Linked DNA regions of Homo sapiens. The protein of the gene in region 1 purifies or fractionates together with the protein of each later gene. This does not show direct contact. Each region holds a gene or a part of one and is shown in the gene's direction. Other genes may lie near its edges. The genes, in order: NAA50, LGALS9, NDRG1 and RNF123.

Region 1 (7,861 bases):
GCTGCTTAAGGAGAAAGAAATGAGGGGGATTTAAGAAAGAGGGAGTTCATACACCTAAATGTAAAATGTCTAGAGAAAACATAAAAATCTTTGTGATCTTGAGTTAGGCATATTTCTTGAATACAACTCAGAAATAAATCCATGAAATAAATTTGTCAAAATGTAAAACTTTCCCAAAAACAATAAGAAAATGAAAAAAGCCATAGACTGGTAAAAATTCTTTGCAACATACATAACTTACAAATGACAAGTATCCATAATACACCCAAAACTCAAGAAAAACCAGTTTTTAAAAAATTGACAAGAAATCTGAACTAATTAATTTATCAAAGATGATAACATGAATGGCAAAGAAATACATGAAAAGATGCTCACTTCATTTATTATTTAGGGGGATGCAAATTAAAAACCACAATAAATTGTCACTACATACCTGTTAGCATAAATTTTAAAAGTTAACAATGCCAAATGCTGATGAAGATTCAGAACAGTAGAACTCCTATACACTTAAGACCTAGCATTCCCACTCCTAGGTATTTACTAAGAGAAATAAGAACTTATGTTCATACCAAAACTTATATGTAAATGTTTATAGGAATTTTACTTGCAGTTACCTAAAATTGTAAACAACTGCTCTTCAACAAGAGGATAAATTTACAGTACATCCACATAATGGAATACCATTCAGCATTAACAAGGAATGAGCTATTGATATGCACAACACCGGGGTGAGTCTCAGACATTATGCTAAATGAAAGAAACCAAACAAGCAGCTATGTATTTTGTGATTCCATTTATGTGACATTCTTGAAAAGGCAAAACTTTGGGGAACAGAAAAGAGATTTGTGGCTGCTTGGGAGTTGAACTTTAAAGGGTCATGTGGGAGGTTTTGGGAGTAATTAAATTGTATATTTTGGTAATGGTTACATGATTATATGTATTTGTAAAAACTCAGAACTATACACCAAAAAGATGAATTTAATTTTATGTAAGCTTTAAAAAGTTTTTTTTTTTCTTTTTTTTTTCCGAAAGCCAAGGAATCAATCAAAACTGATGCCCATAAAAGGCAGGAAAATGAAGAACAGTTAATACTTGGTACAAATAGAAAATTGCAAGCTGATGGACTTGAATCAACTAAATCAGTAATTCAATAATTACATTAAATCTTTTTTTGAACAGTCTCACTCTGTCACTCAGGCTGGAGTGCAGTGGTGGCGATCTCGGCTCACTGCAACCTCTGCCCTTGGGTTCAAGCAATTCTCCTGCCTCAGCCTCTCAAGTAGCTGGGACTAAAGGCACGCGCCACCACACCTGGCTAATTTTTTGTATTTTTAGTAGAGACAGGGTTTCACCATGTTGGCCAGGCCAGTGTTGAACTCCTGGCTTCAAGTGATCCACCCGAGTCAGCCTTCCAAAGTGCTGGGATTGCAGGTGTGAGCCACTGTGCCTGGCCCATTAAATCTTAATGGACCAGATACTCCAATTGTCAGATTAAAAGAATAAGATCCAACTATATGCTATTTACACACACTTTAAATATAAGGACACAAGGAAAAGTAAAAAGAAAAAGGTAAAAGATAGAACATGAAACTTTGATTTGAAGGAAGCTGTAAAGCCAGGCCTGGTGGCTCATCCCTGTAATCCCAGCACTTTGGGAGGCTGAGGCAGGTGGATTGCTTGAGTTCAGGAGTTCAAGACCAGCCTGAGCAACATGGTGAAATCCTGTCTCTACCAAAAATACAAAAACAAAACAAAACAAAAATAGCTGAAAGTGGTGGCATGCATTTGAGGTCTCAGCTACTTGGAAGGCTGAGGCAGGAGGATCCCCTGAGCCCGTAGGCGGAGCTTGCAGCAAGCCAAGACTGTGCTACTGCACTCTAGCCTGGGCAACAGAGTTGAGACCCTCATCTCAAAAAAAAAAAAAGAAAGAAAGAAAACTGCGTATTAATGAACAAAGTAGACTTTAAAACAAGGAGTATTGCCAGCAAAAAGGATATTTCAAAATGATAAAAGCGTCAAATTATCAACAGTAGTCCTAAATATTTGTGCACTTTCTAATTTGAAAATACCTGAAGCTTTCTTTTATTGATTGAATGAAACAGCAGAAAGGAAGAAACACTTCCAAACTTTCTTTGAGGCCAAGATAACCCTGATAAGAAAACATATCAAGAATATTACAAGGGCTGGGTGCAGTGGCTCACGCCTATAATCCCAACACTTTGGGAGGCCAGGGTGGGCGAGCCTATCACTTGAGGCCATAATTTCAAGACCAGCCTGGCCAACATGGTGAAACCCCATCTCTACTAAAAATACAAAAATTAGTTAGGAGTGGTGGCACATGCTTGTAATGACAGCTGTTTAGGAGGCTGAGGCAGGAGGATTGCTTGAACCCAGGATGCGGAGGTTGCAATAAGCTGAGATTGCACCGCTACACTCCAGCCTGAGCAACAGAGGGAGACTCCGTCTCAAAAAAAAAAAAAAAGAAAAGGAAAAAAGTGTATCAAGAGTAAGCCTTTTTGAGATACCATGTGAACAAAGACTTGGAGTTAACATATACTGCAGCCAAGGATGGAGAGGCCATCAATTGACAGGAAAAACTGCAAGCAAAGCAGATTTTGGAACAAAGATTTGAAATTGTTTGCAGTATGTTCACTTTGAAGTGTCTGCTGGAGATTGCTTGGATCTAGGAATGTAGAGTTCAGGAGTGAACTATAGGCTAGAGACAGAAATTTGGAAATTGGCAGCATTAAAGCCACACAACTACAAGATTGAATGAGATCACCAAGAGAATAATTATAGAGAAGATAACCAAATGCGTCCATATACGAGGCCGTCATAAAATTGGTTCTTTTTCAGCTTCCGCATTTATACACAAGCATACTTGATGTTTTAGCCATATCAAACTGACTGATTTTCGGACTACATCACTGCTGTTTTGTTCATGTTTTATTAGACTGCATCTCTTGCCCTTCCACAGGATAAGCTAGTCGTTCTTCAAAATGTTTCCCATTGTCACCTTCATTCTAGTATTATTTTTGTACTATATGTACATACACTGTTAGTAGCACATTGTATATACCTGTCTTTCCTACCAGATGTAAACACCTTTGCATTCCAGATGCATAACACATAGATACTCAAATATTTATTGAAATATAATTGATTTATGCTTTAGGCAACTCTATTATGTTCATAAGAACTTTAGAAAAATTTAGATTGACAGAATTTTTTAAATCTCCATTAGGTTAGTTTTTTAATAGAGAATTTGGACTTTTAACTTAATTTTTTATAGGTTATTCTAACTAAAACCTTTTTGGTTGTTTACATTCAAGTAATGTTATTTTCTTGACATGTCTACATATCCCTTATGCTTATGCCTTTTTTTTTTTTTAACTCCGTGTTCCTTGCTAACTTATATTTACAAGTTGATTATAGTACTTTGATATATTTAGAAAATCCATGTCTTAAAATAATTTGGAGCTAAGTGATCAGGATTACAGAAGTATTCCATTTCAGTCAGACATATCATGTTAATGAGAGTTAAACTATATTTGAAGCTCAGTTTTGCTGACAAGGTTACATTAAGTGAACATTTTGAAATTTTTCTAGCATATTTGTTTCTTGCAAAAATCAAATTAATTTCTCAAAAACAGCTTAATTTTTCCAACAGCTACCAAACAATACTTAAATCTCAAATTTGTTTAAAGCGTGTATATACATATATATAACGCGCATAGAAAAATATTGGAAGACTATCAGCAAACTTATTTCTGGCCATATTATTGCAGGATATTTTCCCTTTCTACGTCATTTCTATGGTGTGCTTTAAAAAAAAAAAAGGCATGTATTTTTTTAATTAGTTAGGGGAAGATTAAGCTGCCTATTTCCTAATGGTTCAATATTGTTTTCTCTATTTAGGCTTTATCTGGCCACCCTAATGGAAACTTTTTTTAGTAGTTAACTTTTATTAGACTCATTGTAGCACAGTGCACTATAACCACTTTTTCTTCTTGTATGAAGTCAAGAAATACCTGGTATTATTCTTTGAAAACTGTAAGTATGCTTGAAGCCTAGTTACTACCTACAAATGATTCCTAAAGTTTTAAAAACCTCAAGTTCTTTCATTTATACTTTAGAAGCTTGACTTTGTAGGTTCTTAAGTTACTATTATTGTTGATACTTCAACTTCATAATGTAATTTTAAATCACTTTTTAAATACTAAGACTTTTTTTTAAATGAGATGCTCTAAATTAATACAAACTGTATATAAAAAAATTACTACACCCAACTTGTGGCACTATGGTAAGTTAAACAGGAGACAGTGTAGGTAAGATGTGATCCCTGTCAGCTACTGCATTTTTAAAGGATCCTATATTTTGGCCAGGCACAGTGGCTCACGCCTGTAGGCCCAGCACTTTGGTAGGCCAAGGTGGGCGGATCACTTGAGCTCAGGAACTGTAGACCAGCCTGGGCAACATGGTGAAACCCTGTCTCTACAAAAAATTCAAAAATCAGCTGGGCGTGGTGGCATGTGCCTTCCTCAGCTACTCGTTAGGCTGAGGTGGGAAGATCACTTGAGCCTGAGAAGCGGAGGCTGCTGTGACCTGTAATTATGCCTGGGCAACAGAGCAACCCTGTCTCAAAAAAAGAAAAATAAAGGATTCTATAGTTTACAGGATAACAGTATCCACAGATTTTTCTTTCTTTCTTTCTTTTTTTTTTTTTTGAGGCGGAGTCTTGCTCTCTCGCCCAGGCTGGAGTACAGTGGTGCGATCTTGGCTCACTGCAACCTCTGCCTCCTGGGTTCCAGTGATTCTTCTGCCTCAGCCTCCCGGGTAGCTGTGACTACAGGCACGTGCCACCACACCGGGCTAATTTTTGTATTTTTAGTAGAGACAGAGTTTCACCATATTGGCCAGGCTGGTCTCAAACTCTTGACCTTATGATCTGCCCACCTTGGCCTCCCAATTTTTTTTTTTTTTTATGTGAATGGTAGATAGTGGGGAAAGTGAGCCCAGTAGATTTTAGTCAGAAAAGTGTTATGAAGAGGGGGAGTTCTGTGAATGAGATGTAATCTACTTAAAGAAAACATGAATTTCATACAGGGAATTCATTATAGTTGTCAAATACTTGGGATGAGAAAAGACTATACTTAAGTGACTAGAAGTTGGAAGAGACTATAACAAGAAAATGTCTATTTTTTTATTTTTACTTTTTTAAACTTCCTATGGTGCTGAGGGGTTTTTTAAATATATAAATCTCTTACCCTTTTACTAACATGTTTGTTTATTTAATCTGTGTGGTTGCTAAGAAACTATGTTCAGATTTTAGGAAGACATACAAGACATGAAAAGATCATTGGTTGCAACAAATAATACAGATTAGTGGTATAAAAAATAATCAAGGCAGGAAGGATAAAGTTCCAAATGAGCTAAGCCTTTCAAAACTGCTAAGTATGACAGAAACGATGCTTTATGCTGTCTTTTGTGTTCTTCATACAGACTACTTAAATAGGGGGTAAAAGTCTCTTGTTTTTGCCTCTAACTCCTTACCAAGTAGAATGTTCTCCAAACTGGGCATTATAGAGTAATACATCTTAGAGAACTTTGTACTATAAGATAAAATATTACATCATATTCCTCTCCAGATAAATCAAATTTAGAAATTTCTTTTTTTATCTGTAATTATTGCTGTTTTTTGTTTTGTTTTTGAGACAGTCTGTCACCCAGGCTGGAATGCAATGGTACACAATCATAGCTTACTGCAGCCTCGACCTTCCAGGCTCAAGCAGTCCTCTCACTTCAGCCTTCTAAGTAGCTGGGACCATAGGTGCACGCCACCACACCTGGTTAAGTTTTTTTAAAAAAATTTCTTACAAAGTTTTGCTATATGCCCAGGTTGGTCTTGAACTCCAGGGCTCAAAGGATCCTCTCACCCCGGTCTCCCAAAGTGCTGGGATTACAGGCCTTCATGCCCAGCTGTTTTTTTTTGTTTCTGTTTTTGTTTTTTTGCATTTTAATCTAAATTTTAACATTTCAAAATACAGTTTTTAAAATTACAATTTCTACTACAAATTAAAATCCTTTCAAGCATGTTTTTGTATATGTTAACAAAAGTCCGTTGTTAAATATAGTTGAAATGTGCTTTTTCTCTACAAAACACAATATGCTACAACATCTTTTTGGGCAAATAATACGGATGGAGCAAAAAAATTGTAGAATGCTGTCAGGTTTGCCTTATCACATTTGATCCACCTTTAACAGTATTGAAGTTCACTTCAGCTATTAAAAATTCTTTGTTTACAGCTCTGCAGGCAGAATACCTTTGATACTTTGTTAGAAATTGGAACTGAAAATTTTTCGCTTTAATCTTTTCCATGGACCCAATTGTTTTGATTACAAGTGGTTTCTTAGGAATGCTCCTTTTATTAGTCCTTTCTCATGCTGCTAATAAAGACATACCCGAGACTGGGTAATTTATAAAGGAAAGAGGTTTAATTGACTCACAGTTGCGCAGGGATAGGGAGGTCTCAGGAAACCTATAAACATGGTGGAAGGGGAAGCAAACACATCATTCTTCACATGGTGGCAGGAAGGAGAAATGAGAGCGAAGTGAAGGAAAGCCTCCTTATAAAACCATCAGATCTTGTGAGAACTCACTATCACGAGAACAGCATGAGGGCAACCGCCCCCATGATTCGCCGGGTCCCTCTCACAACATGGGAATTATGGGAACTACAAGATGAAATTTGGATGGGGACACAGCCAAACCATATCACTCCTGTTGCTTTCTTAATGGATAGTTTTCATCCTGGGGTGATTTTCAAGATGGTGGATTCCTTTGTTTCGTTTCCAGCAACTCTGGTTCTGAAAATGGGGTATGTGTATCCAGGAATGTGAATTTTGCATATCACCTCTGTGACTCTGATGTAGGTAGTTCATAGACCACGGTTTTCATGAATAGAATGTGCATGGTATTGCATACCTCCATTGTTTTCTTAGAATAAATTACTAGAAGTAATAAGATACTTGGGCAAAGGAACTGTAATTTTACCAGAAATAGGTGTATCTAAATTTTTCTGAACTATGAACTACAAGGAAAATTTTGACACTTGCAGAATGTTATTCTGGCCTTTGTAGTAGTCGTTGTGTACCATATTTGTCCCTGAATGTATGTAATTATATGAAAGCTATGAGTAGAATTTGTATTGAATGACTGTCAAAATTTGCTTATAAATGATAATTTGCTTATAAATCAACTCTGAAAGAGTTGGATTTATCAATCATGTAAAAAAGACTTGGTACCCCTTTCATATGTTCATATTAACAAATGGGGCTAATTATGTTTTATTGAGTACATTTTGATTTGTTCCAGTAGCCGGATCGAGCTGGGAGATGTGACACCACACAATATTAAACAGTTGAAAAGATTGAATCAGGTCATCTTTCCAGTCAGCTACAATGACAAGTTCTACAAGGATGTGCTGGAGGTTGGCGAGCTAGCAAAACTTGGTATAATATAGTTTTTTTTTTGTCCTCCCTTCTTTTCTTTCTTTTTGTTCTTGAACCCTAGTTTTTTATAGAGCAGAAGAAGTTAACTAATTTAGTTTGTTTATTTTATAAGTGAGGAAATGGGAGTGGTCTAGGTTGTGAGAAAAATCTCAGAGAAATCAGTTGAATAAAACAGTTGAATTTTAAAAAGAAATGCTTAGTGTTCTTAGTGTATACCTGTGTGTTTTCACTTTAAGCTATACTCTAGAGGAGGCTTAAACTTCCTAAGATGGCATAAGAGCTTTGAGATCATTGATATTCATGAAATAGTTGATGAAATTTAATGTTGATAGGAACAGTGTAGTCCTTT
Region 2 (7,861 bases), on another chromosome or scaffold:
GCTCCCTGAGATCAGCGAAGCACACAGTAGGCCCTCAGCAAATCTGGGCTTCTCGCCCTTTGGTCCTCATCTCTCATTCCCTCCTTCCCTGACTCTCTCCCCTGCGGGTGGTAGGGGAGGGAAGAGCTGGAGGGAGACCGCACCCCTGCACTGCTCACCAGAGCCTGGCTCTTTCCCATCCCATCTTGGCAGGGCCCTAACCCCCTTGCCTCATCGCCCTGCCTGCCTGGTCTCTCCCTCTTGCCCCTGCCTCTGCCTTTCGGCTTCTCCTTGGCTCTATTAATGCTTCTCCTCACTGCCCGGTGCCTTTTGTTTTAACAGAACCCCCGCACAGTCCCTGTTCAGCCTGCCTTCTCCACGGTGCCGTTCTCCCAGCCTGTCTGTTTCCCACCCAGGCCCAGGGGGCGCAGACAAAAAGTGAGTTCAACACAGAGGCCCTGGGTGGCCGAGCAGACAGTAGGAAGGACCGAGGGTCTGAGAGGCTGGCCCCAGCCAGCAGGCCACTCAGGGCCTACAGGCCGCATCTTGCCCACCCAAGAGTTCCCTGTCTCTGTCCGCTGGGCACCCAGAGCTGGGGACCTGGGGGTCACCCTGGATTCTTCACTCCCTCTTCTTTACGTCTCTCCAAGGCACGAACGTGTCTCCCTCCTGAAGCCACCGATGTGGTCCAGGCCTCTGGGATTCCTCACCATGACGACAGGGGTCCAGTTCCCCACCCCCTACACCCAACCACTGCCACAGTGACCTTCTTATAAGCAAATGTGATCACACCCTCTCCCTGCTTAAAAATCTTCACAGCCCCCAGCCCTTCAAATAAAGCCCAAATTCTCCAGCAGGGTATATGAATTCCTCCCCAGTCTGCCCCAATCCACGTCCCTGCCTCACCCCCAACCCACGAAGCTCACGCAGCCTCTGCAGCTCACTCAAGGCCCTCTTGGGCCACCATGCTTTTGCATATGCTGTCCCTGGTCCCGGAAGCACCCTCTGCCAGCCTGCCTCGAGCACATGCCTAATTGCCCTTCCATGCTCTGCCTAAGTGCCGCTCCTCTGGGAGTCCTCCCCGCCTGGAATATTGTTGGACGCTCCCCTGGTGTCCCCACAGAGTCTGTATGTATCTGTGCCATGCCAGTTCACAGCACCCCATTGTAACTGTATTTGCGTGTCTGTCCCCGTTACTCCACCCCCATGTCCCTATGCCCATGAGGCCCCAGAGGGCCAGGACTGTGGCTTGTTCATTTGCACTGTGCCTGGCACTCAGTAGGGACTCAGTGAATGAATGTGGAATGTGGTTCACACAGCCAGGGAGAATGGGATACCAGCCAGGGCAAGAACAGTCTACTGGGTGGGGCAGGATCCAGGACAAGGAGGTGAGCAGCCCTTCCTCCGGCCACTCAAGTAGTGGGGACTGGGAGGAGGGGCGCTTTGTCTACGCAGTCTTCTTATGGCTCATCACCGTACAGACAGGGCACCTGCCTCCTGCCACGCTGACTTCAGGACTGGTCGAGCCCCAGGGAACATTTGCAGGGCAGCCCAACTTTGGCCCTGGCCCTGGCGCTGGCCCTGGCTCTGGGGAGGATAGAAAGTGTGCTGGATACAGTCAGACAGAACTGGCTGCCACTTTGGATTTGATCCCTTCCACCTTGGCAAGCTTGGGCAAGTTGCTTAATCTTTCTGAGCCTCGTTGCCTCACTAGGGACACAGGAGCTGAGGCTGCTTCCCTTGTTGGAAAGCACTGAAGCCCAGGAATCGACCCACAATAGGCCTTCAACAAATACCACTTCTCACCTTATGGGTGAAATATGGCACTGGAAGTAATGCTCTTCGCTGTGGGAGCTACAGAAAGCAATGAGGTCTCTATCAAACCCAGTCTCCTCTCTCTCGAGAGGAACCAGTGGGGATACCCTACCCCCCAACCCCAAAGCCCTGTACACCTGGGGGTAAAAATCTGGGTGCCACGGGCTCAGGAAGGCTTGCTTGGGAGCAAGAGGGAGGTGGGTGTGTCCGGGGAGGCATTTCTGAGCACAAGAGCCTCCCTGGAGTTTTGCCACCATCTCCTCCCATTCTGTGGTGCCCGCGATAACCACCATTCTGACTCTCCTCACCCCTCCAGCCTCCCGGCGTGTGGCCTGCCAACCCGGCTCCCATTGTAAGTCTCTTGCTTTCTTTTTGGATCGTCCTCATTTTGGCTTTTCTGGGCTCATGGAGGAGGCAGGGCCAGGCATTGGGCCTCTCCCATTGGGAGTGGGGAGGGCACAGACCAGACCCTTGACCATCTGCCCGGCCTGGTGAGGTTGGGGGTTGGATGTGGGGGTTGGATGAAACAACCTGAGTTGCCACCCCGTGGGCAGCCACGGAAGACCATGCCCCACATTCACTTCTGTCACCTGCAAAGGGAGGCTAGGCTGAGAGACGTTTCCCCGAGAGGAAAGATGGGCCAGAGCCACCAGCGTCCCCATCTGTCTTCTCCAGGGTTCTAACCTTTGCCCCTCGCTCATCCCCTTGAGAGAAGAGACACCTGGGCCCACCCTCTGTGGGGTCTGTGGGGCCATTGGGCTTGTTACGCCCCCTGGAGGGTGCCTGCCGTGTGGCGCCCTCTGGTGGGAGCTGGTGGTTTTCACACGTGAGAGCCTGGGTGAGACCTGGTTTCTTTCTTCCAGACCCAGACAGTCATCCACACAGTGCAGAGCGCCCCTGGACAGATGTTCTCTGTAAGTCTACAAGTTCTGGTCAGTTCACAGCTGCACAGTGTCCTCCTTCACCAAAAACTAAACTCCCTAGAGCCCTAGAGTCGGGAAGAAAGCGGTTTAGCAAGGAGGATGGGGACACTAGGGGCTGAGTGCTTGGCTCAGGTGACATGTGGCTAAAGCTGTCCTTGGGACAGCAGAGATTCTGGAAGAAGCAGGGTTTATCCAGTGGTGGAAGAGACAAGTCCCCTAGAGACCGGGAGGGAAACTGGTCCATCTGTCACCAAGTGGGGAGTACAGTGGCCCCAGCACCCGGATGTGAGGTTCCTGGCCCTGCATCCTGGGTCCCCAGGATGTCACTATTGATCACAGGCTTAAGCTCTTCTCCTGATGGTGCAAATGAGGCAGGGGGGCTTAGAATTAGTGGGGCTGCCTGCGGAGGGGTTGAGGGGCAGGTGACCGTGGTGTGGTCTGGGAACACGGCAGGAAGTTCCAGGAAGGCTAACATGAAAAGGGAGGTAGACGGGCGAGTCCAAGGGCCAAAGGCTCACGAGGTCAGCCTCACAGTGGAGTCCTCTCTAGAACGCGTGGGTGCGCCTGGGTGAGTGCTCGCGCACCCATGTGCTCTCCCATTGAATTTCCTGGTTTCTTTTCAACAGACTCCCGCCATCCCACCTATGATGTACCCCCACCCCGCCTATGTAAGTGGTTTCTCAGGGAGGGCAGAGGTTCTGTTTGTGGTGGGCAGGCTGGGGGTGAAGGGCCGCTGTGGGGGGATCCACTGGCCTTGAAAAATTAAAAGCAGTCATTTGTTAAGCTGAAGGGCTTCAAAGCATCCCAGCGAATTAGAAGGCTGTGGAGAGGAGCTTTCAACCTTAAAACTGTCGTGTCAATATGAGCACATTGCATGTCCCTCCCTTTTCACCCCACGAAACGAGTCTTTTTGTGTTTGGCCAAAGTTCCTTTCATGACACTAATCTAAGCCCATTAATTTGAGGAGCACTGGAAAGTTTTCCTTTGGCTTTTATGGAACCAAGTAAAGATATCATGGGCTTCTTCTCAGCTGACAGCCCAAATTCATGGGAACTGGTACAATCTTCCCCTTCCGCGTGGTGGCTGACCTGTCCCCCTTCTTCCGACAGCCGATGCCTTTCATCACCACCATTCTGGGAGGGCTGTACCCATCCAAGTCCATCCTCCTGTCAGGCACTGTCCTGCCCAGTGCTCAGAGGTAAGCCAAGGGCTCCAGTGACCTCTGGGAAGAGAGAGCCCTTCAAGGTCAGTCCAGCCATTCCCCTGGCTTCAGGAAGGCTACTGATGATGGGGAGGAAATGGGACTCAGAATTCGGTGGATAAAGGTTCAGGTGGGCTGCCCACCCCAGGTTCCACATCAACCTGTGCTCTGGGAACCACATCGCCTTCCACCTGAACCCCCGTTTTGATGAGAATGCTGTGGTCCGCAACACCCAGATCGACAACTCCTGGGGGTCTGAGGAGCGAAGTCTGCCCCGAAAAATGCCCTTCGTCCGTGGCCAGAGCTTCTCAGTAAGGCACCGCAGTCTGGAGCTTGGAGAGGCTCCCATGGGTGCACAGGGGGAGGGGGTAAAGGAGGTTTGAGGTACCTTGAACAGTATGGGGGCTGATTCCTCTGGGATGAAGGCCCAAAAGAAGAGAAGGTGGCCAACAAATTATTATTATTATTACTGTCCCGCATGAAGGAAGTGCTGGGATCTGCTTTTTCAGATGAGGAAACAAACTCACAAGTGCAGGTTACTTGCTTGTGGTCACACAGTCAGTAAGTGTCAAATCAGACCCAAGAAGGAGGTGTTATTCATTTCTTCATTTACTCAACAACCATTTTCTTGTCGCCTGCTTTGCGCAGGAAGCACCCCACATGCTGGGGGCACAGTCATGAAGCACACAGACAGGGTCCTGCCTCCAGGGAGTTTATAATTTAGGTGGGGAAAGAACAAGGAAAGTAAAGCATGGACAGATTGTCACAGATAACGACAGTGCCACGCACAAAGCAAAACAGAGCGATGAGATAGAGCGAGCCTGGGAGGGGCAGCTAGGGCCAACGTGCAGAGGCACGGGTGTGGCCTGTCCAGGAACAGCAGGCAGGCGTGCTCCACCCTGACTACATATTCAAATCACCCAGAGAGCTTACAAAGGAAATATCAGTGCTGGGACCCCAGCCCAGGCCAATGAGGCAGTCAGCTGGGCATTCGTATTTTAAAAATATGCCTTAAGTGATTATACTCTGCAGTCAGAGTTGAAAATGACTGATGTAGGGCTTTGCAGCCATGGAAAGGAGCTTGGATTTTAACACAGTGAAAAGCCTCAGGAGTGTTTCAAGCCAGGGAGCAACATACTTTGATTTGTAGACAGCTGTGTGACCTCGGACAAGTGACTTAATTATTCTGTGCTTCAGTTTCCTCATCTACAAAATGGAGCTAATAATCATGAATTTCCTAGAGTTGTAAGAATGGAATGAGACAGTATCTGTAGTATGCTTAGGACAGTGCCTGGCAGGTGGCATGTGTGATAGGAGTGTTAGCTATTGCAAAGGGAAGGAGGTTTTAACATTTGTACCCTGACTGCTTCGTGGAGAAGGCATTGGGGTGGAAAAGACAAGTTAGGAGACTGATGCTGCAGGAGCCCAGGCCCAGAGCACTCCTGTGTGCTGGGCCTGAGGGATACAGACGGCACAGGCCAGTGCTCCTGTCCCTGATGGGGTGGGAACAGTATTCTAGACCAGGGAACAGTACAGGGGAAAGAGCACGCACAGCCTGTTTAGTGAAGAGCCGTCGTTCAGTGGGGATAGAGTGCAGGTGAGGGGCTTATTAACAACTGAGGAGGGAGGGAGGGTGGGAGGGAGGGAGAGAGGAGGCTGCAGTGAGGGTGGAGGACTTCCCAAGTGTAGTGCAAACGGCATGATCTCTGCACAGGTGTGGATCTTGTGTGAAGCTCACTGCCTCAAGGTGGCCGTGGATGGTCAGCACCTGTTTGAATACTACCATCGCCTGAGGAACCTGCCCACCATCAACAGACTGGAAGTGGGGGGCGACATCCAGCTGACCCATGTGCAGACATAGGCGGCTTCCTGGCCCTGGGGCCGGGGGCTGGGGTGTGGGGCAGTCTGGGTCCTCTCATCATCCCCACTTCCCAGGCCCAGCCTTTCCAACCCTGCCTGGGATCTGGGCTTTAATGCAGAGGCCATGTCCTTGTCTGGTCCTGCTTCTGGCTACAGCCACCCTGGAACGGAGAAGGCAGCTGACGGGGATTGCCTTCCTCAGCCGCAGCAGCACCTGGGGCTCCAGCTGCTGGAATCCTACCATCCCAGGAGGCAGGCACAGCCAGGGAGAGGGGAGGAGTGGGCAGTGAAGATGAAGCCCCATGCTCAGTCCCCTCCCATCCCCCACGCAGCTCCACCCCAGTCCCAAGCCACCAGCTGTCTGCTCCTGGTGGGAGGTGGCCTCCTCAGCCCCTCCTCTCTGACCTTTAACCTCACTCTCACCTTGCACCGTGCACCAACCCTTCACCCCTCCTGGAAAGCAGGCCTGATGGCTTCCCACTGGCCTCCACCACCTGACCAGAGTGTTCTCTTCAGAGGACTGGCTCCTTTCCCAGTGTCCTTAAAATAAAGAAATGAAAATGCTTGTTGGCACATTCATGTGGGTTGACCATGGCTTCTTTAATTCATTTGGAGACATTTTGGAGTCTGTGGAATCGGGCGGGGGTGCTGCTGAGAGGAGTGGGATGGGAAAGCATGGACTCCCTTTGGGCAGGGGGTCCTGACCTCACACCTCCTCCCAGAGGGTCTCTTGCAAATCCCACGAGGGTGTTGGAGAAAGCAGGCTGGGGCTCTAGCCTTTTGGGCAGGAGTCTCGGACACAGGAAGGGTGGTAATGGGGGACACCAGGAAACAGCCCCATGCCTCCGAGATGGGAGAGGGGCTGGGGCAGAGCCTGTGAGGGCCACAGCAGGGTCAGAGCTGCCTCCTCAGACCTGGCGTCCCAGTGGGAGGAGGTGGCTTGGGGAGGGGGGTCAGGAGAAGCTGATCCGAAGCACCGTCTGGGTGTGTGTTCCATTGTGGGTCTCCCCGGCATTAGGGGTTAGGGCTTGCGTGGGAAAAGTGGCTCAGTGTTCATGTGTGGGGTTCTGCCAGCCACTGGGCCACTGCCCAACAGCCCAGCTCCGCGTCCACGTGATGCCAACACATCCTGCTTGGCTCAGCAAGAATCCAGTTCCTCAGGCCCCAGTGTAGTCCTCGGAGCTGGCAGCACCAGCAGCAACTGGGAGCTTGTTGGAAACGCGGCATCCCGCGCACCGCCCCCCTGCCCCGTGACACACACACATACCTACCTGAGAGATCAGAGCCTTCGTTTTCACAACACCCCAGGTGAGACACACACATTAAAGCTGAGAAGCCGGCTGGGCATGGTGGCTCACGCCTGTAATCCCAGCACTTTGGGAGGCCGAGACAGGCAGATCATCTGAGGTCTGGAGTTTGTGACCAGTCTGGCTAACATGACAAAACCCCGTCTCTACTAAAAATAATAATAATTTAAAAAAAGTAGCCGGGTGTGGTGGCGGGCACCTGTAATCCCAGCTACTCGGGAGGCTGAGGGGGGAGAATCGCTTGAACCCAGGAGGCAGATGTTGCATTGAGCCAATAATGCGCCATTGCACTCCAGCCTGGGTGACAAGAGTGAAATTCCGTCTCAAAATTAAAAACAAAACAAAACAACAACAACAACAAAAACACAAACCTGAGAAGCCCCGGTCCGGGAGCGGACTCCTGGCTGTGTTGCTGAGATGCACGGCTGTCGCGCAGGGCACAGAGCTTTTCTGGAGCCTGAGGTTGACACTACACCTTCTCCTGCCACCTGAGACTCTGCTGCTAGAAGAGGGAGGGGAGAGAGAGGGGCGAAGTCGGCTAGGGCGGCCAGGAGGCAGACACCAAACCCGAGCTGGGAGCCGTGTGTTGCTAGGACCCCAGCGTCCCCTGCTGAGCTCCTTCCTTGGTTCTGACCAGGAGAAGGAAATGGGGCTCAGTCTCTTAAGAAGCCTTCCTTGGCCAGCTCCAAACCCGGGAGGGTCCCCAATCCCTCAGACGAGGATGCTGTGGCCCACACTTGCCTCGACATGTTGCCTTCCCAGGGACCACATCCGTA
Region 3 (7,861 bases), on another chromosome or scaffold:
CTCTGCTATGACACTGCTTTGTAACAGCTGTACAGGTTTTTGTAGTCAGGGCACTCCTGGGTCATAACTGATTCTAAACTAGAATCAGACACGGGAAGTTTTCATGACAGTTGTCATTGTTATTTCTCTGGGCTCAGGTCAAGAGCCACTGTTCCTTTGTATCCTCACCGAGCAATTGTGTAAGAATGCAACAATACTCATTTTGTACATCCATTGGTATTTTGACTACCTATTATTTGCTGGGCTTTGCTGGAGGTTGGGAATACTGACATGATTCTACAACATCCATCTTACAAAAAAAAGAAAGGAATGCTGACATGAATACAAAATGGTCTGGCCATATAGGCTCTCAGCAAATTAAAAATGGTCTCAACTGTACCCCAGGTGTACATATCTATATCTGTATGTATCTGCATCACATAATGACATTTTGGTCAATGACAGACTGCACATTTGACAGTGGTTCCATAAGATTATAATGGTTCATTTTTACTGTACCATTTTTATGTTTAGATTTGCTTAGATACATCAATACTTAGCATTGTGTTGCAATTCCCTGCAGTATTGGGTAGCGTCATATGCTGTACAGGTTTGTACAGCAAACCTAGGAGCAAAGGGCTGTTCTATACAGCCTTGGTGAGTTGTAGACTATACTGTCTAGGTGTGTGTAAGTATACTCTGAGATCTTCACACAATGACAAAATCTCCTAATGATGAATTTTCTCAGAAAGTATCCCTGTTATTCAGCGATGCATAACTCTGTCTCTCTCTCTGTGTGTGTGTGTGTGTGTGTGTGTGTGTGTGTGTATGCATGTGTTTATCCTGGAAGTAAGTAATACAGTTGTTACTGCCACAACTAGAGAGCATTTGTGCTGTGCGCCTTGTTTGATTGATGAGGTCGATGGTGTGTTACACCCATTTGATAGCTGGAGAAGCTGAGCCTCCGTGGGTTGAAGTGACTTGCCCAAGGCAGGCCTGCAAAGCAGCGGGCTTCCTACTTCTCCTGCACTTCCTCTTTCTCCTTCCCACTCTCTCTAGGACCCGATACCGTGTCTGCTGTGCTGGAACCTCAGTTTTGCATGGGGTGGGGCCGGGGAGCAGCAGCCTGCTCTGCTGCCCACACTGCCTTTTTCTGGGTACTTCTCTCAAGCTTTGGTTTGCCTTGGAAAGTTCCTAGTGTTTCAGATTGCTGGGATGTCTGTCTCACTTTGTGTCTTGAATTGCAGCTAAACAACCCTGAGATGGTGGAGGGCCTTGTCCTTATCAACGTGAACCCTTGTGCGGAAGGCTGGATGGACTGGGCCGCCTCCAAGGTGAGGTGGGGGCCTGTCAGGCCGGCGGGATCCCTGCAAGAAGAGGGACAGGTGCACACAGCCTCTGCCTGGGGGATCCCTGGAGCTACGAGCTCTCTCTTTACCCACTCCTCCACTACCCTCTACTGCCCACTCCAGTTCCCTCTGCTTTACTTAGAACAGTACACATGACCTCAGCCGTTTGCCATTCAGAAGACTTAAATACCACCAAGCTGTCTAAGCCAGGGAAAGCACTGGGACACAGGTCCCTGAGGCAGCTTGGAGAAGCATTGCTTGGATTAATGAGTATTAGCTGGGTACATAACTTGTGCCAGGCTTTGGTCAAGATGCTGAGCATCTTGAAGAACAAGACTTCTTGAGATGAACAAGACAAAAGCCTCTAGGAATGAATCTTAGGAATCCATTCACATATTATTAAAGAAAAATAAATATGTATTTAGTACGGACTGTGCCACAGAATTTTACGATAATAATTAGCTAACGTAGATTGAGAGTTTACCATGTGCTAGTTTCATTCTACGTTGCTGTGTGTGCATGATCTCAGTTAATCTTCATAGTAACTCTAGGAGGTGAGAATTTTTATCACCGTTTCAGAGGTAAGGACTCGGTGTGGCTAAGGGGATTGTCCAGGGTCACATAAAGCTAGGCAGTAGAACGGGGACTGGATGCAGCTTGCTTTGACTTTGTGGTTCGTGGACCTGACCACCCGTGCCCCTGGGGCTCCTGTCCAGGGTGGGAGACAGGCAGGCCTGGCAAGCAGGGTAGGCTGCCTGGAGGAGAAGGGACCTGTGCTGTCTTGGGAAGCTCTGTCCTGGCTGGTGTCCTAAGGTTCCTTGTTTATCTTTTAAAAATTATCATTGTGGTGTTTTTGTTTTTGTTTTTTTCCCTGTAAAGGCCTCAGTGTTGGCCAAGGAGAGGGGGAGGTCATTCCAGTTGAAATAGGACAGAGTCTTTCAAGCTGAGGTGATCGCAGCTTCTCATTCTGCAAGTGCATTTTTGCCCAATTTTGGGTGGCTGCCAGGGACCGATGGTTTGAAGGGGCCCTGCCTCTTGCCCCATCCCCTGCCCTGTACCAGCCACTGTGATTTTGCATTTGTTCTTTGAACATTCCTCCAGAATGCAGGAGCCCTTCCGTCCAGCCTGTATGACGTTCTGGAGTGGAACACACTCCCTGTTTTTTATTTGATTTTCCAGCAAAGGAAGTGACATTCCAGTCAACCCGCTGGGCTTCATGATAGCTGTCCTGAGTGAGACTCGAAGGTCTGGGGATGTCGACCACTGGCTAATGTGAAGCCTGAGGATTGTCTTTAATAGCTGTACTATTCCCTTCAGTACAGCTTTAATAGCTGTACTATTCCCTTCTTTTTCAACTCCAGCCTTTCGATTACCAGGCATTGGTATTAGATACTGTGATGTGTGCAGTTACTTCTTGCAGTCCTTCCCTTGACCTTGTGGCCTTGAAGTTCCTGGCACTCCCAGTTCCAGATTAGAAGTCTGAGACCCAGAGGTATGCAGACTGCCCAGTGCCACACAGCTAGGCTGTGGCAGGCAAGGGCCAGCCAAAGACCCTTAGGTCTAGAGCTTCTCTCCTACTCATTTTTGCCTAATGCTTAGGTCAGCACACATTTATGGAGCTTCTGCTGTATACTAGGACTTATAGAGCTCCTGCTGCAAACCTAGTCACTGGGGAGAGGTAGGAAAAGAAGATTGTCAGTGTCTTTGGTAATATCAGTATACTTAGAAAGGGGAAACTGGCTTGGAGATGAGAGAGGAGGGATAGTTGGGAGCCAAGCATATCTTGGGGTATAGACTGGGGAGCTCAGTGTGTTTTTAGAAGAGGTGAATGGATGGCCCTCTTTGCTGAGGACTTGGTGAATGTTTGGAGCAGGGTAAGCTAGCAGTAGCTGGGTCTTTATTCAGCACTTATTTGCTGTGCATCTTGTGCATGGGCCTCTGAAAATAAGGAACTGGATATAGTCCCAGGCCCTGCATTTGGGGGATCAGGTCCAGGAGGGAACTGGAGACAGGAACTGAGTTTCTATCAAGGGGGATGTCCTTGAGGCCTGCATGTAGGGGGGAGTCCAGCAATGCCACCCTGCACCCAGGGAAGTGGGGTTTTGCTGACCTTGTTAACTACTGTTAGCTCCTGGTTTCTCATCCACCCACTTTACTCCTTTCCAGATCTCAGGATGGACCCAAGCTCTGCCGGACATGGTGGTGTCCCACCTTTTTGGGAAGGTGAGTTGCGTGGTCTGGCAAATCTGTTGTTCCTGCTGAGCAAGGCATTGTGTGGTGCTCAGCACAGGGCCCCATGTGGGGGTGGAGAGAACAAGACACAATCAACTGGGGGCCACCGAGCTGGTGCTCATGAGATAATGTGACATTATTCATTCATAAGCAACAAGTCATTCATTCTCTCTCTTTTTTATGTGTCTTTTAAAAACAGCTGATTGAAGTACAATTAACTGCACATATTTAAAGTGTACAATTGACATGCATATACATTTGTAAAACCATCCCTGTAATCAGGAGAATAACGTCTCCATCACTCCAAGAGTTTCCTTGTGCCCCTTGATAGTCCTCCTCTCCCTCCTCCTCAGGCAACTTCTGATCAGCATTGGCCTCTATAGATTGCTTTGCAATTCCTAGAATTTTATATAAATGGCATTATATAGTAGGTACTCTTTTTTTTTTTTTTTTGGTCTGGCTTCTTTCCCTCAGCATAACCATTTTGAGATTTGTCCATGTTAATGAGTGGATCAATAGTTTATTCCTAGTCGGGGTGCAGTGCTCATTCCTATAATCCCAGCACTTTGGGAGGCCATGGCAGGAGGATTGCTTGAGCCCAGGAGTTCAAGACCAGCCTGGGCAACATAGTGACACCTTGTCTCTACAGAAAAATTAAAAATTGGCCAGGCATGGTGGTTCTGCATGCCTATAGTCCTAGCTACTTGGGAGGCTGAGGCAGGAGGATTGCTTGAGCCCAGGAGTTTGAGGCTACAGTGAGCAGTGAGCTGGGATAGCCCACTGTATTCCGCCTAGGTGACAGAGAGACCCTGTCTCTTAAAAAAAAGTTTATTCCTTTTTAGTGCTGAGAAGTATTCCATTTTATGTATGTGCAACAGTTTGTTTTTCCATTCACCTGTTGATAAGACCTTTGAGTTGTTCCCAGTTCTGGGCTGTTATAAATCTGGTCAGTAGCAAACATGTCCGTGGAGTTAGCTGTGTGCTGGGCTGGGCTCAGTCCTAAGAGCTTCACAAGTGTTAACTATAGGAATAGGATTCCACCCAGGTGCTCTGTGACCTGTGTGATAAATTCTGTTCTCATTCCCAGTTTATGGAAGAGGAAACAGACCAGAGAGGTTGAGTGACTTGCATAGGGTCTCAACCAGGGAGAGGTGGGGCCGGTATTAGAACCTATGAATCTGGCTTCATTCTGGTCACCACAGCAGGATGGCGGCTGCCTGTGCTGCTGCCTGGCTCTGAGATGAGCTGCTCTTCTGCAGAGTTACCCCACTAAAGGGGATTGAGCCAAGCCCCTCACAGCATGCTAGAAGTGAGCAGTCATCTTATCAGCCCAGCCTGCCTGGCCCCAGACACTGGTTTTGTGTCTCTAGCTGGGGCCAGCTACCCTCGGGAAGGGTATGCCATGGGCTTGGTTGCAAGCCCAGGGTCTGGAAAACCCCTTGGTTGCCTGAAATTGCAGTGACCTGCTTTGCTTACATACCACTGTCTGCTTCTGAGCTAACATGTGTGACCATCTGACACTCCCATGAGTCCTGGGGACACAGCCTCCACTCTGGAGCTGGCGAGTACACCAGGGGAACAGACGCCCCACTCTGGAGTTGACGAGTGTACCAGGGGAATAGAGGCCCCACTCTGGAGTTGACGAGTGTACGAGGGCAATAGAGGCCCCACTCTGGAGTTGGCGAGTGTACGAGGGGAATAGAGTCCCCACTCTGGAGTTGGCGAGTGTACGAGGGGAATAGAGCCTCCACTCTGGAGCTGGTGAGTGTACGAGGGAAACAGAGGCCCCACTCTGGAGCTGGCGAGTGTACGAGGGGAATAGAGGCCCCACTCTGGAGTTGGCAAGTGTACCAGGGGAACAGAGGCCCCACTCTGGAGTTGGCGAGTGTACGAGGGAAACAGAGGCCCCACTCCGGAGTTGGCGAGTGTACGAGGGAAACAGAGGCCCCACTCCGGAGTTGGCGAGTGTACCAGGGGAACAGAGACCCCACTCTGGAGTTGGCGAGTGTACCAGGGGAACAGAGGCTCCACTCTGGAGTTGGCGAGTACAACTGCTAGGTTTGCCTGTTGTGTTGGTTTCCTGTGGCTTCTGTAACAAATTACCACAAACAGGATGGCTTAGAACAGCGAAAGTGGGATGAGCAGGGTGGCTCACACCTATAATCCCAGCACTTTGGGAGGCTTAGGCGAGTGGATCACCTGAGGTCAGGAGTTCGAGACGAGCCTGGCCAACATGGTGAAACCCCGTCTCTACTGAAAATACAAAATTAACCGGATGTGGTGGCACGCGCCTGTAATCCCAGCTACTCGGGAGGCTGAGACAGGAGAATCACTTGAACCTGGGAGGCAGAGGCTGCAGTGAGCCGAGATCGCGCCATGCACTGCAGCCTGGGTGAGACAGAGGGAGACTCTGTCTCAAAAACAGAGAAAAAGGAAAACAAAAGTGTATTCTCTCACAGCTCTGAGTCTAGAACTCCGATGTCAAGCGCTGGCAGGGCCGCCCCTCCGCCACAGGCTCCAGGGGAAATTCGTCCTTGCTTCTTACTGCTCCAGGTCGCTGTCGGCATTCCTTGGCTAGTGGCTGCTCACACCACTCTCTGCCTCTGTCTTCACATGGTCTTCTCCTCTGTGTCTGTTTTATTTCTCCCTCTCCTTCCTCTTTTAAGGATACTTTCCATTGGATTTCATCCCGGCTCATGTAATCCAGGATTATCTCATCTCAAGATCCTTAATTAATTACACCTGCAAAAACCCTTTTTCCCAGCAAGTTTGCATTCCCAAGTTCAAGAGATTTGACATGGACATATCTTTTGAGGGCCACAGTTTAGCCCACTAGAGTCCTCTTTCCCCTTTTACGATTCATTCCACAGCGTGTGACACATTTTCCCTGTCCTGAGTGTGTAATCTGAAACTGATAGGAATTGGGAAAAATTCACAGCCACTGTCTCTGTTTCACTGGAGGAGGGATGTCAGACATAGCGTTGAGCATCTGATCTGATTATACCCCAAGTTATTTGGAGACTGGTTGGTCCGGCCATGGTGTCTGAGGGTACCCCCAGATCGCTATAGTTGGTTTTGATCTGAAATCCCAGCGTGATTCCTGACTATTTTTTCCAGAGTTTGCTCTTAGTAGCCAGTTGACCTCCTTGCTGCCTAAATGATCCTGGACTGTTTGATGCAGCTCAAGCTTGACACCGGCTTTCTTTGACCCCCAACTCCAACTTCTCATCTGGTTGCCACTGGTCATATCAGACCCTTGTGTGAAACCTACAGTGTCTGCCCTCGTACAAATGAGAAACAGAGCAAACAAGTTGTTTGTCGCAAATAACATTCAAAAAGCACCCAGAGACGGGGAGGCTGAGGCCGACTTCCCCAAGGCTCTGGTTGGCCGTGGTGGGAGTTGCAATTGCCCTTCTTTTCAGTAACTTCCTGTGGCATGAGTTGATTTTGCTTTTCAAGCATGAAAAACTTCTTTTCAGCTCTTCCCATTGGAAAACAATTACTAACATTTGCCTCCAATTTTTACTGTTAGTAGAGGTGAGAACACAACCTCCATTAAGTCCTACAACCTAGTGAAGTAGGCAACATTCTCTCTCTTCCCTTTTTTTTTTTTTTTTTTTTAAGAGATCTGAGGCTCAGAGAGGTTGAAAGATTTGCCTACGAAAGGGACAGTGATGAAGCTAAGCTCTAGATCCAGGATGTCTGACTTCAAATTGAAACTCCCAAAGTAATGAGTTTGGAAGGGTGGGGTGTGGCCTTTCCAGGATGGGGGTCTTTTCTGCTCCCAGCGGATAGTGAAACCCCTGTCTGCACCTGGTTGGGCGTGTTGCTTTCCCAAAGGTTTTTTTTTTAGGTCCGTCGCTGTCTTGTGGATTAGGCATTATTATCTTTACTTTGTCTCCAAATAACCTGGAGAATGGAGAGAGTAGTGACCAGCTCAGGGCCACAGTGCGATGAGGACCATCTTCTCACCTCTCTAAATGCAGGAAGAAATGCAGAGTAACGTGGAAGTGGTCCACACCTACCGCCAGCACATTGTGAATGACATGAACCCCGGCAACCTGCACCTGTTCATCAATGCCTACAACAGGTATTGGGATGTAGTTCAGCCACATCATTGCTATTTATGAGGTGTCTTCTGTAGATCCGAAATGTGGGACAGATGAGAGGGAGAGTATAAAATGAGCGGAAGAGGCAGGCTCTGAGTTTGAGCAAATAGATTAATAGGACAGGTGTCCCCAGGAAGGACACCTGGCCTGTAAGCTGGTTCCTGGCATTCAGCTCGCCTTGCAGGGATCTGA
Region 4 (7,861 bases), about 64 Mb from region 1:
TTATAGATGTGCTACCGCGCCCAGCTACTTTTTGTATTTTTTGGTAGAGACAGGGTTTCACTTTGTTGGCGTGGCTGGTCTCAAACTCCTGGCCTCATGTGATCCTGCCACCTCGGCCTCCCAAAGTGCTGGGGTTACAGGCGTGCGCCACTGTGCCCGGTCACCCATCATAGCCATTTTTAAGTGTTAAGTCTATTCACATTGTCGTGCAGCCAATCTCCACACTCATTTCATCTTGCAAAACTGATACTCCGTGCCTGTTGAACAAAACCTCCTGTCCTCCCTTCCCCAGCTTCCCTGACAGCTCCCACCCATCCCCACCTGTCAGCAGATCCCTGGGTCTGGCAGCTGGGGGAGCAGTGGTTCTGGCATCAGGTCCCTGAGTGCTCTGGCCAGCGGCTCACAGACCCCCAGCTGGGCCTTACTTCCATGTCATGAGGGGACCACCATGGCCCTGTTCTGAGGCTAGCTCAGGTTGCCCCTGGCAACCACCATCCTACTTTCTGTCTCTGAATTTGACTATACTAAGCACCTCATCTAGGAAGAATCATACACTATTTGTTCTTTTGTGTATGGCTTTAGCATAATGTCCTCAAGGTTCATTCGTGTTATAGCATGTGTCAGAATTTCTTCATTTTCCAGGCTGAATAATATTCTGTTGTACGGACACCACATTTCATATATCCAGTCCTTTGCTGATGGACACTCGGGTTGCTTCTACTTTGGGCTACTGTGAATAATGCTGTAATGAACATGGGTTTGCAAAGATCTCTTTGAGACCCTAATTTCAATTCTTTTGGTTATATACCCAGAAGTGGAATTACTGTATCATATGGTAATTCTGTTTTTTATTTTATTTTTAATTTTAATTTTTTATTTTTTTTGAGATGGAGTCTCACTCTGTCACCCAGGCTGGAGTGCAATGGTGCGATCTCGGCTCACATCCTGGGTTCAAGTGTTCTCCTGCCTCAGCCTCCCGAGTAGCTGGGACTACAGGTGCGCACCACCATGCTCGGCTAATTTTTGTGATTTTTTTTTTCTTTTTTTGAGGTGGAGTTTTGCTCTTCTTGCCCAGGCTGGAGTGCAATGGCGCGATCTCGGCTCACGGCAGCCTCTGCCTCCCAGGTTCAAGCAATTCTCCTGCCTCAGCCTCCTGAGTAGCTGGGATTACAGGCATGTGCCACCACGCCCAGCTAATTTTGTATTTTTTTTTTTTTGAGACAGAGTCTCACTCTTTCACCCAGGCCGGAGTGCAATGGCGCTATCTCAGCTCACTGCAAGCTCCGCCTCCCGGGTTCACACCATTCTCCTGCCTCAGCCTCCCGAGTAGCTGGGACTACAGGCGCCTGCCACCACGCCCGGCTAATTTTTTGTATTTTTAGTAGAGACAGGGTTTCACCGTGTTAGCCAGGATGGTCTCGATCTCCTGACCTCGTGATCCACCCGCCTCGGCCTCCCAAAGTGCTGGGATTACAGGCGTGAGCCACCGCGCCTGGCCTAATTTTGTATTTTTTTTTAGTAGAGATGGGGTTTCTTCATATTGATCAGGCTGGTCTTGAACTCCCGACCTCAGGTGATTCGCCCGCCTCGGCCTCCCAAAGTGCTGGGGTTACAGGCGTGAGCCATCGCGCCCTGCAATTTTTGTATTTTTTGTACAGATGGGGTTTCACCGTGTTGGTCAGGCTGGTCTTGAACTGCTGACCTCAGGTGATCCGCCTGCCTCGGCTTCCCAAAGTGCTGGGATTGCAGGCATGAGCCACCGCGCCCGGCCAATTCTGTTGTTTAATTTTTTGGAAACTACCATATCATTTCTACAGTGGCTGTGCCTGTTACATTCTCACCAGTAGTGCATGAGGGTTCCAATTTCTCCATACATATCCTTACCGACACTTCTTATTTTCTGCCCTTTTTTTTTCTTGGTAGACGCAGGGTCTCACTATGTTGCCCAGTTGTCAAACTCCTGGGTTCAAGGAATCCTCCTGCCTCGGCCTCCCAAAGTGCGGGGATTATAGGCATGAGCCACCACACCCGGCAATTTCTACTTTTTTAATAGTAAATCCTAATGGGTAGGATATGGTACCTTATTGTGGTTCTGCATTTTGCTAATGATTAGTGACATTATGACAAATAGTACCTTTACAAGCACTTATTGGCCATTTGCATATCTTTTGTTTGTTGGTTTGTTTGTTTTGTTTTGAGAGGGAGTCTCGCTCTGTGGCACAGGCTGGAGTGCAGTGGCAAGATTTTGGCTCACTGCAACCTCTGCCTCCCAGGTTCAAGCGATTCTTCCACCTCGGCCTCCTGAGTAGCTGGGACTATAGGCATACGCCACCACGCCCGGCTAATTTTTGTATTTTTAGTAGAGATGGGGTTTCACCTTGTTGGTCAGGCTGGTCTCAAACTCCTGACCTTAGGTGATCCGCCTGCCTCGGCCTCCCAAAGTGCTGGGATTACAGGCTTCAGCAACCGCGCCTGGCCATATCCTATAATTTTGCTGAATTTATTTATTAATCCTAGTTGGGGTTTTGTGTGTGTGTGTGTATCTTTAGGATTTTCTACTTATAAAATCATGTCTGTGAACAGAGATAATTTTACTTTATCCTTTCCAGTGTGGTTTCCTTTCTTTTTCATGCTTAGTTGCTCTGGCTGGGATTTCCAGGACTGTGCTGAGCAGAAGTAGAGAAAGTGGCACACTTGTCTTGTTCTTGGTCTGAGGGAGGGAGGGATTATAGTCTGTTACCACTGAGTGTGATGTTAGATGGAGGCTTTTCATATATGGTCTTTATTATGTTGAACTGCCTTCATTCTCTGCATCTTCAGCACTAACTCACCTGTGTCTTTCTAATCCCATTATTAATGGAGAGATTCACTCCTGTAAACCAGCACTTTGGGAGGCTGAAGCGGGAGGATCACTTGAAGCCAAGAGTTCATGACCAGCCTGGGCAACCCATCTCTACAAAAAAAACAAAATTTAATTAGCGGGGCATGGTGACACATACCTGTAGTCCCAGCTACTCTGAGGTCAGGAGTTCAAGACCAGCCTGGCCAACATGGCGAAACCCCATCTCTCCTAAAAATACAAAAATTAGCAGGGCGTGGTATCACATACCTGTAGGAGGATCACATGAGCCCAGGAGTTCCAGGTTACAGTGAGCTGTGATTGTGCCACTGCATTCCAGCCTTGACGCTATATGTGCCCAAAAGTTATGCTCTCTCCTTCTTTCTCTGTCTTAGCTGCTACATCTTCCCCTTCATCTCCCTCCAGCACAGGCTCTTCCCCATCTCTGAAATAGTCTCACCAGGGTCTCTGTCTGCCCCCATCTCAATCCGGCCGGCACATTTCCATCTCCTTTGCATTGATACCTTAGCTCTGATGGGGCCATTGCCAGCCCCTCACCAGACACAGTCTTCGCTGGCCTTCTGTAGCAGCAGGATCATCGCTGCCTAGGTTTGCGCCTAGGCCCTCCCCTAACCTCTTGCTTACATCTTCTCCTCAGTTCCTTGGGCTTTAGGGCACATCAGAGAGCTGGTGTGAAGCCCAGGTGCTGTGACCGCACTCCAAGACACACGGGTGCTGTGGGTCTGGGCTGGGGCCTGAGGCCTCATTCTTGCCTGGGCTCCTTTGTGAGACCCTGACATAGACTTTGTGGAAACCACATTGTGGGGAGCAGGGCCCTCAGCAGGTTTTGTCTGTTTCCTGTGACCTCTGTTCCACCAGTCACACTGCCCCCTGCTTTCCCACCACCTTCTCCTTTGCACTCCAGATCAAATTTCTGCCTGTCTGCTTACCATCGCCAGCTCTCTTGGGCCCTTCACACACCTTGTACTCCACTTTTCCACACAGACTTCCAGTCACAGCACCCTCTTGCCTAAAACTTGCTTACAGGCTGAGGCAGGCAGATCACCTGAGGTCAGGAGTTCAAGACCAGCCTGGCCAACATGGCGAAACCCCATCTCTACTAAAAATACAAAAATTAGCCGAGCGCGGTATCACATACCTGTAGTCCCAGCTACTCGGGAGGCTGAGGCAAGACAATCCCTTGAACTTGGGAGGCGGAGGTTTCCAGTGAGCCAAGAGGGCGTCACTGCACTCCAGCCTGGGTGACTCCATCTCAAAAAAAAAAAAAACTTGCTTACAAATATGCTGACCAGAGTTCTGGCCTGGGTCACAGTAATGCGCCCTCCAGGCTGAGTGCGTCCCTCTTGCCTGCTGAGGACTTGATTGCCCTGCTTGAGCTACTGCTCATGCTTCCTGAAATCCAGGTCTCAGTTGTGCTGTCGTAGGCCTGGGGAGGCCTTTCCTGATCCCCAGGCCAGGACATGCCCCCAAGACCCCACTGGTGCGCAACCCAGCAGCACCCCGTGTGCCTCCTGCAGGAGAAGATGCTGGACATCTACTGGCTGCTGCGCGTCTGCCTGCGGACCATTGAGCACGGTGATCGCACAGGGTCTCTCTTTGCCTTCATGCCCGAGTTCTACCTGAGCGTGGCCATCAACAGCTACAGTGCTCTCAAGAATTACTTTGGTCCCGTGCACAGCATGGAGGAGCTCCCAGGTGATGGAACCATTCAGGCTGAGGCAGAAGCAGAAAAGGGGTCTCTAGTGTGAGCCCTAGGAGCCCTGGTCTGAGACCTCTGTGGCCCAGCAACACACTTCTGTGGGGGGCGGGGAGGGGAGGAGCTTCCTCTGTGGTTCACCCTGCAGCAAACAAACGTCTGCACCCTGCCCTGGGACCTGCAGCCACAGAGCCAACAGCTCCCTAGCAAAGGAAAACAGACAAGATGGAACACGGTGGGTGTAGACCTCTTGGCTTTCACTTCCTTCCTAGTGCTATGAGCAACTGCCATGGTCCAGGAGCCAGCTGGCCTTGCACCTTGACTCCCTGGCACTGGTCACAAAGCGTAGCAGTTGGTCAGGGGCAGAATGGTTTGTCTTGGTAAATCACAGCAGGGGGTGGACCCTGCTAGGGTCCACATCCGAACCTGGGCCTCTCAGCCTGCTGATTCCAGGCTGGGCGTGGCAGTGTATGTCTGGATCAGGCAGTGAGCTGTCAGGCCCCTAGCCTGCCCCCTGCCCAGCCACAGGCCTCAGTGCAGGCTTTGTCTTCAAAGACAGAGCTGTGAGTGCCCAAGGAGCTTTGACTGCTCATCAGGTGTGTGTGCTGAGATGGGTTTGAGCCCAGGTCAGGGCTCCTGCCAGGGCCTGTCATCCCTTCACAGTGAGCCTGTGCCTTAGCCCTTGCACAGCCACCAATGAATGCTTTGCCCGATGTCCCCAGATGCCACCCTGGGTCCAGGCTGGCCTTGGGAGCCAGCTCTAGAGCCTGCTACCCAAGTCCACCCACCCTGCTGACATGCCTGCCTCTGGAGCCCCCACTCCCAGCCGACACGTCTCACTTCCCACCCTTGCAGGCTATGAAGAGACCCTGACCCGCCTGGCTGCCATTCTCGCCAAACACTTTGCCGACGCACGCATTGTGGGCACTGGTGAGGGGCCCCTACAGAGGGTACAGGGGGAGGGGGATGGGATGGCACCTCTGGTCGGCTTTCTTCTATGAAAAATGTGGCCAGGTGGGCATGAAGTATGGGTCCAGGGCTCATGCCAAGCCCCTGCTGAGGCACGGTGTGTCCCCGCAGACATCCGAGACTCACTGATGCAGGCCCTGGCCAGCTACGTGTGCTACCCACACTCCCTGCGGGCTGTGGAGCGAATCCCCGAGGAGCAGTGAGTGGGGCCTGGGGGGCACACACCCTGGCCACAAGCACCATGCCCAGCCTCACCCCGTCTCTCCCCTCCTTGCCCTCACAGGCGTATCGCCATGGTGAGGAACCTCCTGGCGCCCTATGAGCAGCGGCCCTGGGCCCAGACCAACTGGATCCTGGTGCGGCTCTGGAGGGTAAGCCTGACTCGAGGGGAAGTGGCTGAGGCTGGCTGGAGGGAGAGGGTGCGCTGTCCCATTGACCTGGGCACTGACCCCCACCTCCACAGGGCTGTGGCTTCGGGTACCGCTATACACGGCTGCCACATCTGCTGAAAACCAAACTTGAGGACGCCAATTTGCCCAGCCTCCAGAGTGAGTATCTGGGTTGGGCGAGTCCTGGGCAAGGCAGGCGGGGGCGCTTACCTCCTACCCATGGGTTCTTTCAGACTCTCCACTTCTTCCAGCCCCTCTCTGGTTCCCCCATTGGGTCCCAGACTCCCTACGTGTCCCCTGGGGTTTCCACTTTCCCTGCTTCCTTCCAGCCCAAGGATACTCGGGATGGGACTCCCCCTCCCCAGCCTTGCCCACAGTCTTACCTACATGTGCCCTTTGGGCCTGGATGCTCTATGTGGGTCATGGTGAGAGGCGGCACCATGTTCCTGGCCTGCTACAGCTCATGCAGACTGAATACTCTGTCCCTTGCCCTTTAAGCTAGCTCCCTGACCTCCAGCCTTGTCCCAGCACCATGTCCTTCTGCTTCTTTTTTGCTATCTGCTGGTGGCAGACCCTGGCCTTGGCTTAGGCCTTGGACACCTGAGTCCACTGGGAGCACAGATTGGAGGTTGGCCAGGTCCCCAGAGGGTATTCACGAGAGTTCCTGGAGGAAGGGACATTTAGTTGGGAGCAGAGGCTGTGCCCTCTCTCCAGGGTCCAGCAAGGACTTTCCCCTAGGCCTGGCCCTTGCAGAGTGCCAGGTGTGCCACACACTGTCCTCACCCTTCATGGTGGCTCTTCTTGGCTCATGTAGTCTGTTTCTGCCCTTGTGGGCAGTGTTTTGGTCCAAAGGGTGTCCCCAGAGAGGCTGAGTGTCTTCTGCTAAGTCACACAGCAAGTCCTTGCCAATTGCCGTGGTCCTGCGTCCAGGGCGGAACTGAGCTGCAAGTGGAGAGCGGCAGTGGGGCCAGGCCTGTCCTGCTGCTGCGGGAACTATTGATTTGTATCAAGCTGGTGGGGAGGTGCGCCAGGCCCGTTGCAGCTGAGGGCTCCGGTTACTGCTGCCTGCCAGCCCAGACTTGGTGCCCACCACCTCGGCCATATGCCAAGGCCAGGCCAAGGGCAGCAGAGGACAGTAGAGGACAGCAGGTTTGCAGCAGGGCTTAGAGTAGGCTCTTGGAGGAGCTGGCCTTGGTGCCGGTGGGGAAGCATCTAAGCCGCCCTGTTTAGGTCTGACCCTATCTGAAGGGTGTGCGACCCAGAACTTGCTGAGGGTCAGGCTGTGGCTGTGTGGCTGCTCTGGACCTGGAGTGGATGGTGTGGTGTCAGGGCTGGACACAGCTGCAGCCTGGGGCTTGCCTAGTAGAAGGAGGGGACAGATTCTGTCCCAACTAACTCCAAGGCAGCTGTCCTCTGTCCCCTGCTTTCATGACCTGAGCATTCCTAGGGAGCCATCTTTCTGTCCTTATACCAAAGCCTCAATGGGCGAGGACAGAGGCAAACAGGCAGAGGCCACTGCAGTGGAGTCCCTGATGATGCCGCCTCCTGTCCCCCTGCAGAGCCCTGCCCTTCCACCCTGCTGCAGCAGCACATGGCGGACCTCCTACAGCAGGGTCCTGATGTGGCACCCAGCTTCCTCAACAGCGTCCTCAATCAGCTCAACTGGGCCTTCTCTGAATTCATTGGCATGATCCAAGAGGTGGGCTGTGGTGGGGCCTCGTGGGTTAGGGTGGTGCAAGGGATGAGGCCTGGTCCTGGGCTAGAGCCAGGTGCTGACCACTGCATGCCCACGTGTTGGTGGCTCAGATCCAGCAGGCTGCTGAGCGCCTGGAGCGGAACTTTGTGGACAGCCGGCAGCTCAAGGTATGTGCCACCTGCTTTGACCTCTCGGTCAGCCTGCTGCGTGTCTTGGAGATGACTATCACACTGGTGCCTGAGATATTCCTT

Evidence for each region.
Region 2: the proteins of NAA50 (region 1) and LGALS9 purify together in Homo sapiens (co-immunoprecipitation; one large-scale study listed by IntAct). This does not show direct contact.
Region 3: the proteins of NAA50 (region 1) and NDRG1 fractionate together in Homo sapiens (co-fractionation; one large-scale study listed by BioGRID). This does not show direct contact.
Region 4: the proteins of NAA50 (region 1) and RNF123 purify together in Homo sapiens (co-immunoprecipitation; one large-scale study listed by IntAct). This does not show direct contact.

Annotation. Positions count from the first base shown.
Region 1 is NC_000003.12:113,723,610-113,731,470, reverse strand, and holds part of NAA50 (N-alpha-acetyltransferase 50), read left to right. Parts: intron 1-7,375; coding exon 7,376-7,512; intron 7,513-7,861. UniProt on the Homo sapiens protein: N-alpha-acetyltransferase that acetylates the N-terminus of proteins that retain their initiating methionine. Has a broad substrate specificity: able to acetylate the initiator methionine of most peptides, except for those with a proline in second position.
Region 2 is NC_000017.11:27,643,204-27,651,064, forward strand, and holds the end of LGALS9 (galectin-9), read left to right. Parts: intron 1-321; coding exon 322-417; intron 418-629; coding exon of another isoform or gene 630-755; exon of another isoform or gene 756-832; intron 833-2,110; coding exon 2,111-2,146; intron 2,147-2,657; coding exon 2,658-2,708; intron 2,709-3,343; coding exon 3,344-3,385; intron 3,386-3,826; coding exon 3,827-3,915; intron 3,916-4,066; coding exon 4,067-4,229; intron 4,230-5,632; coding exon 5,633-5,779; 3' UTR 5,780-6,357; downstream 6,358-7,861. UniProt on the Homo sapiens protein: Binds galactosides. Has high affinity for the Forssman pentasaccharide. Ligand for HAVCR2/TIM3. Binding to HAVCR2 induces T-helper type 1 lymphocyte (Th1) death.
Region 3 is NC_000008.11:133,250,229-133,258,089, reverse strand, and holds part of NDRG1 (protein NDRG1), read left to right. Parts: intron 1-1,226; coding exon 1,227-1,313; coding exon of another isoform or gene 1,314-1,364; intron 1,365-3,494; coding exon 3,495-3,551; intron 3,552-7,546; coding exon 7,547-7,650; intron 7,651-7,861. UniProt on the Homo sapiens protein: Stress-responsive protein involved in hormone responses, cell growth, and differentiation. Acts as a tumor suppressor in many cell types. Necessary but not sufficient for p53/TP53-mediated caspase activation and apoptosis.
Region 4 is NC_000003.12:49,708,102-49,715,962, forward strand, and holds part of RNF123 (E3 ubiquitin-protein ligase RNF123), read left to right. Parts: intron 1-4,377; coding exon 4,378-4,555; exon of another isoform or gene 4,556-4,791; intron 4,792-5,411; coding exon 5,412-5,486; intron 5,487-5,636; coding exon 5,637-5,724; intron 5,725-5,808; coding exon 5,809-5,896; intron 5,897-5,988; coding exon 5,989-6,073; intron 6,074-7,473; coding exon 7,474-7,613; intron 7,614-7,720; coding exon 7,721-7,861. UniProt on the Homo sapiens protein: Catalytic subunit of the KPC complex that acts as E3 ubiquitin-protein ligase. Promotes the ubiquitination and proteasome-mediated degradation of CDKN1B which is the cyclin-dependent kinase inhibitor at the G0-G1 transition of the cell cycle.